Regions from separate parts of the Homo sapiens genome. Here region 2 is linked to region 1. A link means that fine-mapping ties the variant in region 1 to the expression of a gene that starts in the linked region. Tissue or cell type: whole blood. Region 1 holds a variant in brackets; the other region holds the start of a gene. All regions are shown on one strand. Distances are from middle to middle.

What was found. PIP is the estimated chance that this variant, and not a neighbour inherited with it, causes the effect.
Region 2: MCPH1-AS1 starts here. The variant in region 1 is fine-mapped to the expression of MCPH1-AS1 in whole blood (TOPMed, PIP above 0.99).

The regions. Positions count from the first base shown.
Region 1 is chr8:6,665,260-6,670,644 of GRCh38, reverse strand. All of the region lies in intron 1 of MCPH1-AS1 (MCPH1 antisense RNA 1), which reads left to right. Among named protein-coding and RNA genes, the nearest start is that of MCPH1-AS1, 40 kb to the left of the region's middle. RefSeq lists enhancers at 4,791-4,840, 4,981-5,080, 5,331-5,385. The variant T/G (reference allele first, on the strand shown) is at 2,158.
Region 2 is chr8:6,706,078-6,711,462 of GRCh38, reverse strand. MCPH1-AS1 (MCPH1 antisense RNA 1) reads left to right here and starts at 3,254. Exons shown (of 5, transcript NR_125386.1): 1 at 3,254-3,322. AGPAT5 (1-acylglycerol-3-phosphate O-acyltransferase 5) reads right to left here and starts at 2,821. Exons shown (of 8, transcript NM_018361.5): 1 at 2,576-2,821. The coding sequence starts at 2,794. RefSeq lists silencers at 2,428-2,667, 2,728-3,067.

The sequences.
Region 1 (5,385 bases):
CACCCAATGGGACCAGCTCCTCCCATCTCCACACCCTCCCTCAGGCCAGTAGTCAGTTTAGGAGAAAGTCTAAATGGCCTGGCAAAAAAATGGAGGAGGCCTAGGTTAATTATCCAGGGCCCTGTGGGCTATGTCTTATTGGAAAAAATGGCTAAGAAAAACGGATAATCTACAGCATTTTTTTATCATTTATTTCAAATATACAGCACCTCAATTATGCTATGGATAATAGTTATATAATGGTCAGGCCAGGAAGCCAGTACCCGCTGAGACAGTGTTTCTGTAGAATCCCAAATGCTTGGTTCATTGACTTATATAACACCCTGTAATTTGGGGGCTGTTGGTGTTTTGTAACTGTTGAGATGCAGAAATGAGTGATTTCTTTTGAATTCTTTTACTTCTAGGCAGCAGTCTGTCAACAACTATGGCATCCAGCTGGTCAGAAAGACTAGAGGATTTGACATTTTGCGGCTGTTCTCTAGAACCAAAGAAATGAGAACCTCTTGGTAAAATCCGCTGGTCCAGGAGTTATTATCTCCTGGATTATCTGCCAAAGAAATTATCTGCCAAAATTACAATGTAAAACTGAAGAAGACAACCGATAACTCAGTTAAAATTTTGGAAAAATACAAAGAAACTGTGACTGGGGAGAAATGGTGAGGGAAATTTTCTCGTTGAATTAGAGGATCAGGAGGGCTAAAGGGAGCCCTCATGCTATCAACCAAAATCTCTGTTAAATTCCAAACATAAAATATCTTTTCTCACTGTTAAAATGTCTAAGCAGTCTCCACTAGCAGCCCCCGTCCTGGACACAGGAGCACTGCCCTGCCTGGCCGTCAGGTGCTCCCATAAGCATCATTCAGACAGCGAGGGGGGCAGTGGAGGATTCGGGGGCAGGAGATGGGGTGGTGGAGAGAAGGATGTAACCATCAAAAGTCCATTTTCCCTGCTGAAGCTACCCATGGAACTTTTAAATTGGGTGCAGATTTAAAAATTAATACAAAATATTTGAATAATCGGGGATGTATCAAATGTTCATAAATTACAGCTCCAACTAGGAATGCCTAAGGAACTGTTCCTTCCGTTTAATTGTCCTCTTTGTCTATCAAAAAGACAGCCACTCGCGTGCCTCTTCTAAACAGTCAAATACCATCCTAAGCTCTCATGGAAAATCTCAAGAGGCTTATTGGTTGACTAATTCTAAACCTCTGTTTGCTCAAAGGACAGTGTCAGCTACAATTTTTCATTTGCTTTTGTATTCCATTTATTTTTCTTTACAGCTTTGGGAGATGTGTATTATACTTCTTTTCTTTTAATGATTATCTTGGAAATTGTTTATATATACTTAACAGTCTACAGTGAAGGACTATTTACCATCCTTCTGAATAACACAAAGATTTTAGGACAGTGGTCCCCAGCCTTTTTGGCGCCAGGGACCAGTTTTTCCATGGACCAGGGTGCAGGGGGATGGTTTCAGGATGATTCCAGCACATTACATTTATTGGGCACTTCATTTCTATTATTATTACATTGTAATATATAATGAAATAATTATACAACTCACCATCATATAGAATCAGTGGGTGTCCTGAGCTTGTTTTCCTGCAACTGGATGGTCCTATCTGGGGGTGATGGGAGACAGTGACAGATCAGCAGGCATTAGATTCTCATAAGGAGCATGCAACCTAGATCCCTTGCATGCACAGTTCACAATAGGGTTCACACTCCTATGAGAATCTAATGCCACCGCTGATCTGATGGGAGGTGGAGCTCAGGTGGTAATGTGAGCAGTGGGGAGTAGCTGTAAATACAGATGAAGTTTCGCTCATTTGCCTGCCCACGGCTCCTAACTCTTGCTGTGCAGCCCAGTTCCTAACATATCCGTTGGTGGCCCAGGGGTTGGAGACCTTGTCTTAGAATGGTTTTCCTCCGTTGATCACTGCTTCTAGCTTGTGTGCTACTGGGATACAATATTTTGAATCAATCTCTGTTTTTAACCTCACAGATTGTGTAATTATCAGTATCTGCTTAATATGTATTTAGATTAGTCATATGTTTACCATTTTGTTTAGCTGCCAAACGTCATTGCATTTCAGACTTTCTTTCTGGGAGCGTCTCATTCTTCCTGAAGTACATCATTTAAATGTGCCTTTAAGT[T/G]TGGTGGCAAACAGTCTCAATTTCTGTTTATCTCAAAGTGCCTTTATTCTACCTCATTTTTGGTAGTTTCACTGGATTTGTGATTTTTAAATCTATAATTATTTTCTAGCACATTGAAGGTATTTCACTTTCTTCCATGTTCCATTGTTATTAAAAAGACTCCTGTCAGTCTTATTGACATTCTTTTGTAGATAATCTGTTTTTTCACTATTTTATCTATGTATGAATTTAATCTATTTATGAATTTCATCTATGTATTTCATCATGTATGAATTTAATTTATTTCTCTTGCTTGATATATTATATTGCTTCCTGAACTCTGAAAAATTCTTGGCCATTATTTCTTAGTCTATTAAATATTCTTTAAATACTGCTGTCTTGCTGTTACTCTACTATTTAATTCTGAAACTTAAAATGAATATATGTTGGACTTTATTTTTCATTTTCTTAACTTCTCTTGCGTATTTTTAATTTGTCTTTCTGTTACGCATCCTGAGCAATGTCTTTGGATATAATTTCCAGTTTACAAATTCTCTTTTGAGCTGTGTCTAATGTGTTATTTTTTAAAATTTTTTTCAGAGACAGGGTCTTGCTCTGTTGCCAAGGCTGTAGCACAGTGGTGCCATCATAGCACACTGCAGCCTCTAATTAGCAGATTATGTTTTCATAAAATGTTTTTTATCTTTGACCATTTAAAAATTTGGGAGTTTATCTCTCCTCTCCTTTCCTTTCCTTCCTTCTCTCTCTTCTTTCTTTCTTTTTCTTTCTTTCTCTTTCTTTTTTTCTTTCTTTCTCTCTCTCTTTCCCTCCCTCCCTCCCTCCCTCCCTTCCTCCCTCCCTTCCTCCCTTCTTCCTTCTTTCCATGAGATCTTCCTATGTTGCCTAGGCGTACCACCTATTTACTTACTACCATTGCATAAGTCACTTATCTCTCTCTCCATTTTGATTGTCTGAAGCTTGATGTCGACTAGATTTCTCAGGAAAGACTCAGCAATAATAGTCCCTGAGTTCTGGCATGTTGATAAAAGTTTGTCTTTTATTAATTAGATATAAAATTCTTGTTTCATATATTCTTTCCTTGAGTATGTTAATTATTATATGTTATTTTAATATTGTATATTGTAATAGCATATAATAACATATGATATTTGTATTATTTATTTGTATATATTTGCATTACTGTATATTTGTATTCTGTATGATTTATCTTGTATATAAATATTGTATGTTAAATAAATAATATGCTATTTCATTTTCTCATAGCATAAAGCATTGCTGTCGACAAGCGTGATGATAATTAATTTTTTTTCCTTATACCTTACACACTTGTTTGGGATATCTGTTGTAGACTGAATTGCATCCTACCCAAATTTATAAGTTGAAGCTCTAATCCCTAGTGTGACTGTATGTGGAGACAGAGCTTTTAAGGAGGTAATTAAGGCCATAAGAGGGGCTGGTAATATAATATGATTGGTGTCCTTAAAAGAAAAGGAAGAGACACCAGGAATGCAGGTGCACAGGAAAGGCCATATGAGGACAGGATGAGATGGCCCTTTGCAGCCAAGGAGAGAGGCCATAGAAGAAATCATCCCTGCGAACACGTTGATCTTGGACTTCCAGCCTTCAGAACTGTGAGCAAACAAATTTATCTTGTTTAAGCCACCCAGGCTGTGTATTTTGTTATGCCAGCCCTAGGTAACTAATAAAATGTTCAAAGGATTTTTTTTCTTTTTTTTTTTTAAGTTTGGTAATTTTACCATTTGGGGTCAATATTTTCGAGTGTGTGGTATAATTTTTCAATATGTAGCTTCAAATCCTTTTTTAAATTCAGTGTTAAAAATGTGGTATAGTTCTTGTCGTTTTTAGTATTCAGTCTTCTTCTTTGCATTGGTATCTTCCTCGAGACCTCCTATGTTCTATCTCCTTTGCCTGTCTTCAATATGTTCCACTTTTTCTGACATATTTTTTTTTCACTTCTTTTTTACTTTTAAAACTTTCCTCATTATCAGCTGCATACAGTGGCTCACGCCTATAATCCCAGCACTTTGGGACACCGAGGTGGGCAGAGCACTTGAGATCATGAATTCAAGACCAGCCTGGCCAACATGGTGAAATCCCATATCAACTAAAAATAGAAAAAAAAATTAGCCAGGCGTGGTGGTGCATGCCTGTAATCCCAGCTACTCGGGAGGCTGAAGCAGGAGAATTGGTTGAGCCCAGGAGGTGGAGGTTGCAGAGAGTTGAGGTTGTGCCTCTGCACTCCAGCCTGGGCAACAGAGTGGACTCTGTCTCCAAAACAGACAAACAAACACACAAGAAAACTTTCCTCATTTTCACCCTCTGTTTTTCTTAGGGCATTACATGTTGTGTTTATTTGTTGTTTAGTCTTTGCTCCTAAAATGCATTTTTAAATTTTTTAATTCTTTTCTGATTGCTGTAACAATTCACATACTTTCATGTCTTACATAATTTTCTTAGAGTCTGTTAGCTTGTTCTGAAATAGGTTTTGATCTGTTTTGTGGCTGCAGAGGCAGAAAGGGGGTAATCACTTTCTTCTCCATCATAAAGGTCATACCAGTGCCCCTATAACAAAAGACAGATTAACATGAGAAAAGTATAACACATTTATTTCATCATAGTTTGATGTGATGTGGGAACCTTCAGAATGAAGACCCAAAGATACAGGGTGAACTGTGCATTTCTATACTTAGATTTGATGAAGCACAGCCAGCCATGTCGAAATGTAAGACTGGACAGAAAGGTCCTGATCGAATGTAATAGATGGTGTGGGGAAACTCAGCAAGGCCTCTGCGTTCAGATCTTTCTCAGCCTCTCTGTGCCACATTCCCTCCTCCTGGGCATAGGGTAGGGTCCCTCTACAATGAGGGTCTTAATTTCTTTATTGCCAGCTGTTACACAGAAAAGCAGGGGGAGGCTAGAGTCATATTTTTAGGCTTTATGGCTGGCCTTGAGGCAAAGGGGTTCTGGTTTTTATGACTCACCTCGGGAGAGGAAGAATTCTAGTTTCTATAGCTTCCCTCAGGGGAGCATGAGGGGTGAGAGACAGGAGGGCAAGGGAAGGTCAGGGGGAAACTTGGCTTCTGAGGCTGCACTTTGGGCCTTCTGAGCCCCATGACGGCCACATCTTTGTGTCTGCTCTTATTGTCTGTTGGGCTGTTATTCTGCTTCTTAGGACCTTTTTCTTATAATAGTTTTGTATGGGATTTG
Region 2 (5,385 bases), 41 kb before region 1:
GAAAGTACCCATTTGAGTTTCAGTACCAATGAGAGATTCTGGAAGGACCTAAAAGGATAAACGAGTTATAAGGAACAATTTTAGCAGCACTGACTGAAATATTTCTCTATCTCAGAGATACATATGAAAATAAAGTAGTGAAATTGGGGAAGAAAAAGGTATTTACCCAGAATCCAAGAAAAATCCAACTAAATTTGTTGGAAGCAGGTTTACCTGCCAAGCACAGATCATAAATCTCATGGACCTACTACTACTTCTCTTCAGCTTAAAAATTCTATGTAAAAGAAAATATTCTTCTGCAAGAACTACTGTGAACCACTTATTTTTTAAACCTAGAGTTGAAAGGTGTAAAAATGTCATTTAAAAAAAATTTTATTTTAAAATGCCTCTTTAATATATATAAATTAATAAACCTTTTATTTAAAAACTTATAACCTCTTAAATTACTAAAACTCCCTTCAGAAATGAGTCAACAATACTTTATACAGAACAAGAGAATCATCACTAGCCTTGCAAACGAAAGCTGATAAAAACAATTCAAGAAAAAAAGAGTGTCCTAACAAAACAAGAAAAGCAAGCTAAAAATTTTAATCAAAACATCTCAGTGACAAAGTTAATGGTACAAAGTCACAGGTAAAAAATAAGGTGACAGAACATCACTATAAATCTTTTTCCTTTGGGTCTTATGTTTGAAGATAGCTATTTATTCCTCTATTGATTTAATCTTAACAGAAACAATAAAAAATATTGAAAGGTAGCTTTGTGTACACAGGAAACCCAGATTGCAGAAAAAGACCCTAATAAATTCAAAATACCCTGCTCTGTTACTAAACAGAAAATAATTATTTGTCCCCTCCATACAATAAAAATAAAAATGCAGGAACAAGAAACTCTTGGTTTTAAATTTTTATTAAATGTTCATAACTTGCATTTGATGATCAGTGGGCAATCAGTTCGTTCTACGACTCCTAAAGAACTTCATCAAGGAACACACATTAAACAAAATTTTGAATTATACTTAAGGGTCCTCAGGCATCCTTTCATAAATGCATGAAAATTAGTGCTGGATGCCACTTCCTTTGATTTGAACAGACGGTGGGGGGAATGATTAGATTAAATGTTTTCAAAATCACTTGCTGGGAAATCAAGAAGTAAATCGGATCTCTGAACATCAGGTAAGGTATGCAATTTCAGAAACACTGCTAGGTTTTACAGCCATTTAAAAAAATAAGAACTTGCCAAACCAAAAAATCCTTCAATGGTGTATTCTGCATCATATTGTGTCCTCTTTGAACAAAAATAACATAACCCGCCACAGATAGAATTATTTTTTTAAGAGGTGAATGACTTTGTGTTCTGAGCTTATATCCCATCCCAGGCCAGTTGTCACATGATGTGGAAGTAAAAACTTAATCATGATAAAAATCATACATTTAGACAAACTTGGTGGAGTTACCATATAAAGGGAAAAAATTAGCCTGAATTATTGAAATTTTTAAATGAGGCCCATTTTAAACGTCAACTACCAGGAAACCATGACCTGGAACAGTATCTTTTTTTCTTTCCAAGGAGACACTTACAGACACTGGTTTAAATGGAGGCCCTGGCCTCTCCTAGTTCCTTCCCCCCAAACAACTTCCAACTGGGGCCATCAAGGGTCGATCAGCAGTGCAACTGCAAACTAAATATAGTACCTGACTGACCACAGGGTAAAAACAGCTGCTGTAGGTGGAAAAAAAAAAAGTTAAAAAGACAAAATGATACCGTCCCATTTCCCCATGCCACCCTAACCCTACCAAGAAAAGTAAAAGAGGACTAGGTGGACATTAGGAATAACCAAGAATAAAGCTGTTCTTTCAAACTGAGAAATAAAAGAAAAATTCACCTTTTTTTTTTTTTTATAACACTTCAAATACCTACTGTTAAAGAGGGCCTTCCACTTTTATGGTTTGTTTCTCAAGTTTAATCTACGAATCCAATCTCTACAGAGAAACAGTAACAGAAAGAAAGTAATCAGACAACAGATCACCCACACATTCAAGCCCAGTTAAAGTTGGCAAGAAATGTATCTAGTTAGGCTTCTACGGTTAACAAATGTATTCATTTCTTCGCCCAGCTTTCACTTGTCCAGGGGAAAGAACACAAGACCGAATTGTACTTCTGTTTCAAGAGGTCACTGTAAAAGCGCACTTCGGAGTGTAGACGTCTCCGATCTGTTCCAACATGACCACCTCTTTGGACCAAAGGCCAGAAACTGCTAAACGCGTGCCCTATTATTTAAAACGTGCATCTGCACCCACTTTGCTAAGCAGCATCAGACCCAGGCGAGGGGCGGGGAAAGGGGCGGCGGGTCCCACTCGTAGCCTCAGGACGACGCAGCCACAGCTTCCTAGAGAGCGATCTCGGCAGAACGGCAGGAAGCATGCGGAGAGGAAGGCGGGGAGGCGGCACGTGCTCTCCGTGCTGGGTCCGCCGGGCCGGCCGGGTGACCCTCGCCAGCTGTGGGGGAGCGGAGAGGTCCGCGCCCCCGGGAGCTCGGGTGGACGCCGAGACCCGGGAGCGGGAGGCGGCTCACCTGGACCCCGGTGTAATTCTCGAAGAAGAAGAGCACCATGCTCTGGTAGACGCAGTAGAGCCGGTCGTCCAGCGCTTGGTAGAAGCGGGCGGGCAGGAAGGCGGAGAGCAGCCGCCAGACCCCCCAGGCCAACACGTAGGTGGGCGCCGTGCCCAGGAGCACGACGCTGGGCAGCAGGTAGCGCATGGAGTACGTGTGGAGCACCAGGGACAGCAGCATCTTCTCAGCTCGGCGGCAGCGAGCTCCGCCTGCGCTCCCCGCCCGCCTCCCGGGCCTCAGTCGCGGCCAGCAGGCGGCCAATCACCGCCCGGGCCCGGGCCGCCGCGCCCGCCACCCGCTCCCAGCCTCCGCCCCCAGCCGCATGGGCCGCGCCGCCGCCCGGGGCCGGGTAGGCGAGTGCGGGGCTGCGTGCGCCGCTCCCGGCGGCAAAGCAAGGGAACCCGCGGCCCTCCCGGATCGATGGCTCAGGGATGCTCACACCCCATGACCCTCACCCATCGCCACATCCCCCTGCCGGGGCAGGGGGCTCCGCGGCAACAACGCGCCTTCTGATTGGTCGCCCGTTGCCATAGTTCCACCTCGGCGGCAATAACACGTCTCTTGATTGGTTGGTTTGGGCCGACAGTTGCAGTACAGCTACCTGCTGGGGCGCGGGCAACCCGGCTCCGGCCACTGCGCATGCTCCCCAGCTGGGCCGGCTGCGGACGCGGGAAGGGAGGTGGTGGCGACTGACGGAACTGGGTGAAGGTGGGTGCTGGCCGGAGGAGGGTCCGGGTGCCTCTTGTTCTGCTCCCTCGGGCCGGACGTGCGCGCGGTCAGGTTTAAGGGTCGCTGGAGCTGCCTGGAACGCGCACCTGCTGCTCACAAGCCCCTGGGCGCCGGGATGCACACAATTAGAGCAGTGAGAAAGTGGGTGTTAACGTTATCGGAGGTCTAATTCTTGCAGGCACCTGGGCCCAGGTTGTAGGCAGCTCGGCCCAGGTCGCGGGGCAGCTCGAGTGTCCCCATCTGCTCACTGCCAGTCCTTTGCAAGGGGACGCCGCCTCCTCAGCCTCCGCTCTGAGTGCGCAGCAGCCCCTCCTGCCCGTCTCTCGCTACCAGGGTGTTTCAGAATTAGGGTCCGTGTTTTTCCCCATCACAGTAATGATGATAATTACATGTTTATGCATAGCTGAAGAACAATCCCACAAGGATATTTCCATACTGTTTATTAGACCTTTTCAGAATTCACTCTTGCTTCATTTCCTCAGAGTCTGTTGGACTTGTTTCTGATTTTTTTTTAATAAGGAGCCTCGTTTTTTTCTGTAGTAATTAAAGTAGTTGCGTGCACATGTGTAATCCATAAAAAGCATACTTTTGTAGCCTTCACTAAAAGCTACGAAGGGTGGATAACTGTTTTATTGATGTTAAAGCAGATCCACAGGACTTTTGGATCTTTCTCCTCCCCTTTGGCTGTGGTAAAAATGGTTTAATATGTAACCCTTTTCAAGGATAGTTGTACTTTAAAAGAATGCCGAATGCTTTACCATATATATATATATATATATATATATATATATATATATATTCCCGCCCCCTCCCCACCACCACCATAATGGGAGCCTGTGCTACCTTTAGGCAGGACGGTATTTCAGTGGGAAGTTCTAATCAGGGCCAGGATGGTAGCTACTTTCTTTATACATGATTAACATCAAATAACAACATCATTGGTAGATGATGACCTTTGGGGACAAAGCCAGGTGAATGGAGATCTCTCAAGTAACAAGTATTTGAAGGCCAGCAGGAAGCATTACACAGTAAAAGGAGCTTCTCTCTTTCTGTGGCTGTCATTGTCCTGTACTGTAAGAAGCACTAGGTTTAGTACTGGTGGAAAAAAGTCACAGGTGTGGACAGTGTGCACAACTAATGCTCCTTATGCTTTCTTTAACTGAGACCAGACATCTCTACACTAGAACAGTGTGCGAAAAGATAAAGCAGGTTCTGTGTTCACGTTAGGATTGCTGTGTATAAAGTCAGTAAATATGTGTTTATGTGTAAATTTGTTGTGAATCACCCCAGATTACTGTTAGTCACGAAGTTGTAAACTTTTGTGCAATGTTTGCCATGAAAACACAGAACTTAACTTTCTCTTGTTCCCTCTTTATCTCCAAACCCAGCTCCTGACTATCAGTTATTGTCTGTCCTGCTCCCGCTCCTCTCTTCCTGCGAACAGTCACAGATCCACCCTCTCTTTCTGCCACTACCCGGCCCTGTTTTTCTGTTTTTTTTTTTTTCCCTTTTTCCGTGCAAACCTCTTAGTTGATAATCAGCCCACACCCTCTGCCTCCTTACCTTGTACTTTTGTTGAGCCCTTGCAGTCTGATGACCTTTTCCTCCCCTTTACTGGAATGGTGCTTCTTTCAGAGCACAGCTGATTTCCTCCTTTGCATACCCTGCTGGGCACCAGTGGAACAGTGAAAGGTGAATTCTGTCTATGCCTTCCTTGTACAACATTTAACAAGGAGTTACCTGTGGGATGAAAAGGGGACATTCTTGGTTCTCTGGGAGCATATATCAAGGCAATCTAATTTAGTCTGGAGACAAGGAAGACTTCTCAGTGAAATGGTATTTCAGGTGAAGCTTGAGGGACTTAGTGGGCTTTCCATGGGAGAATGGCACATTTGAACGCCTGAAGCTGAGAAATCACCATATTCTCATGCATAGCACTGGAGTGGGCCACAGTGTTCTTTTTAAAATTTGTTGAGATGCCCCTTGAAAGAATGCTGTGTATTCCCATCACACATTCTTAAACTGATATTTAAATGTTTTTC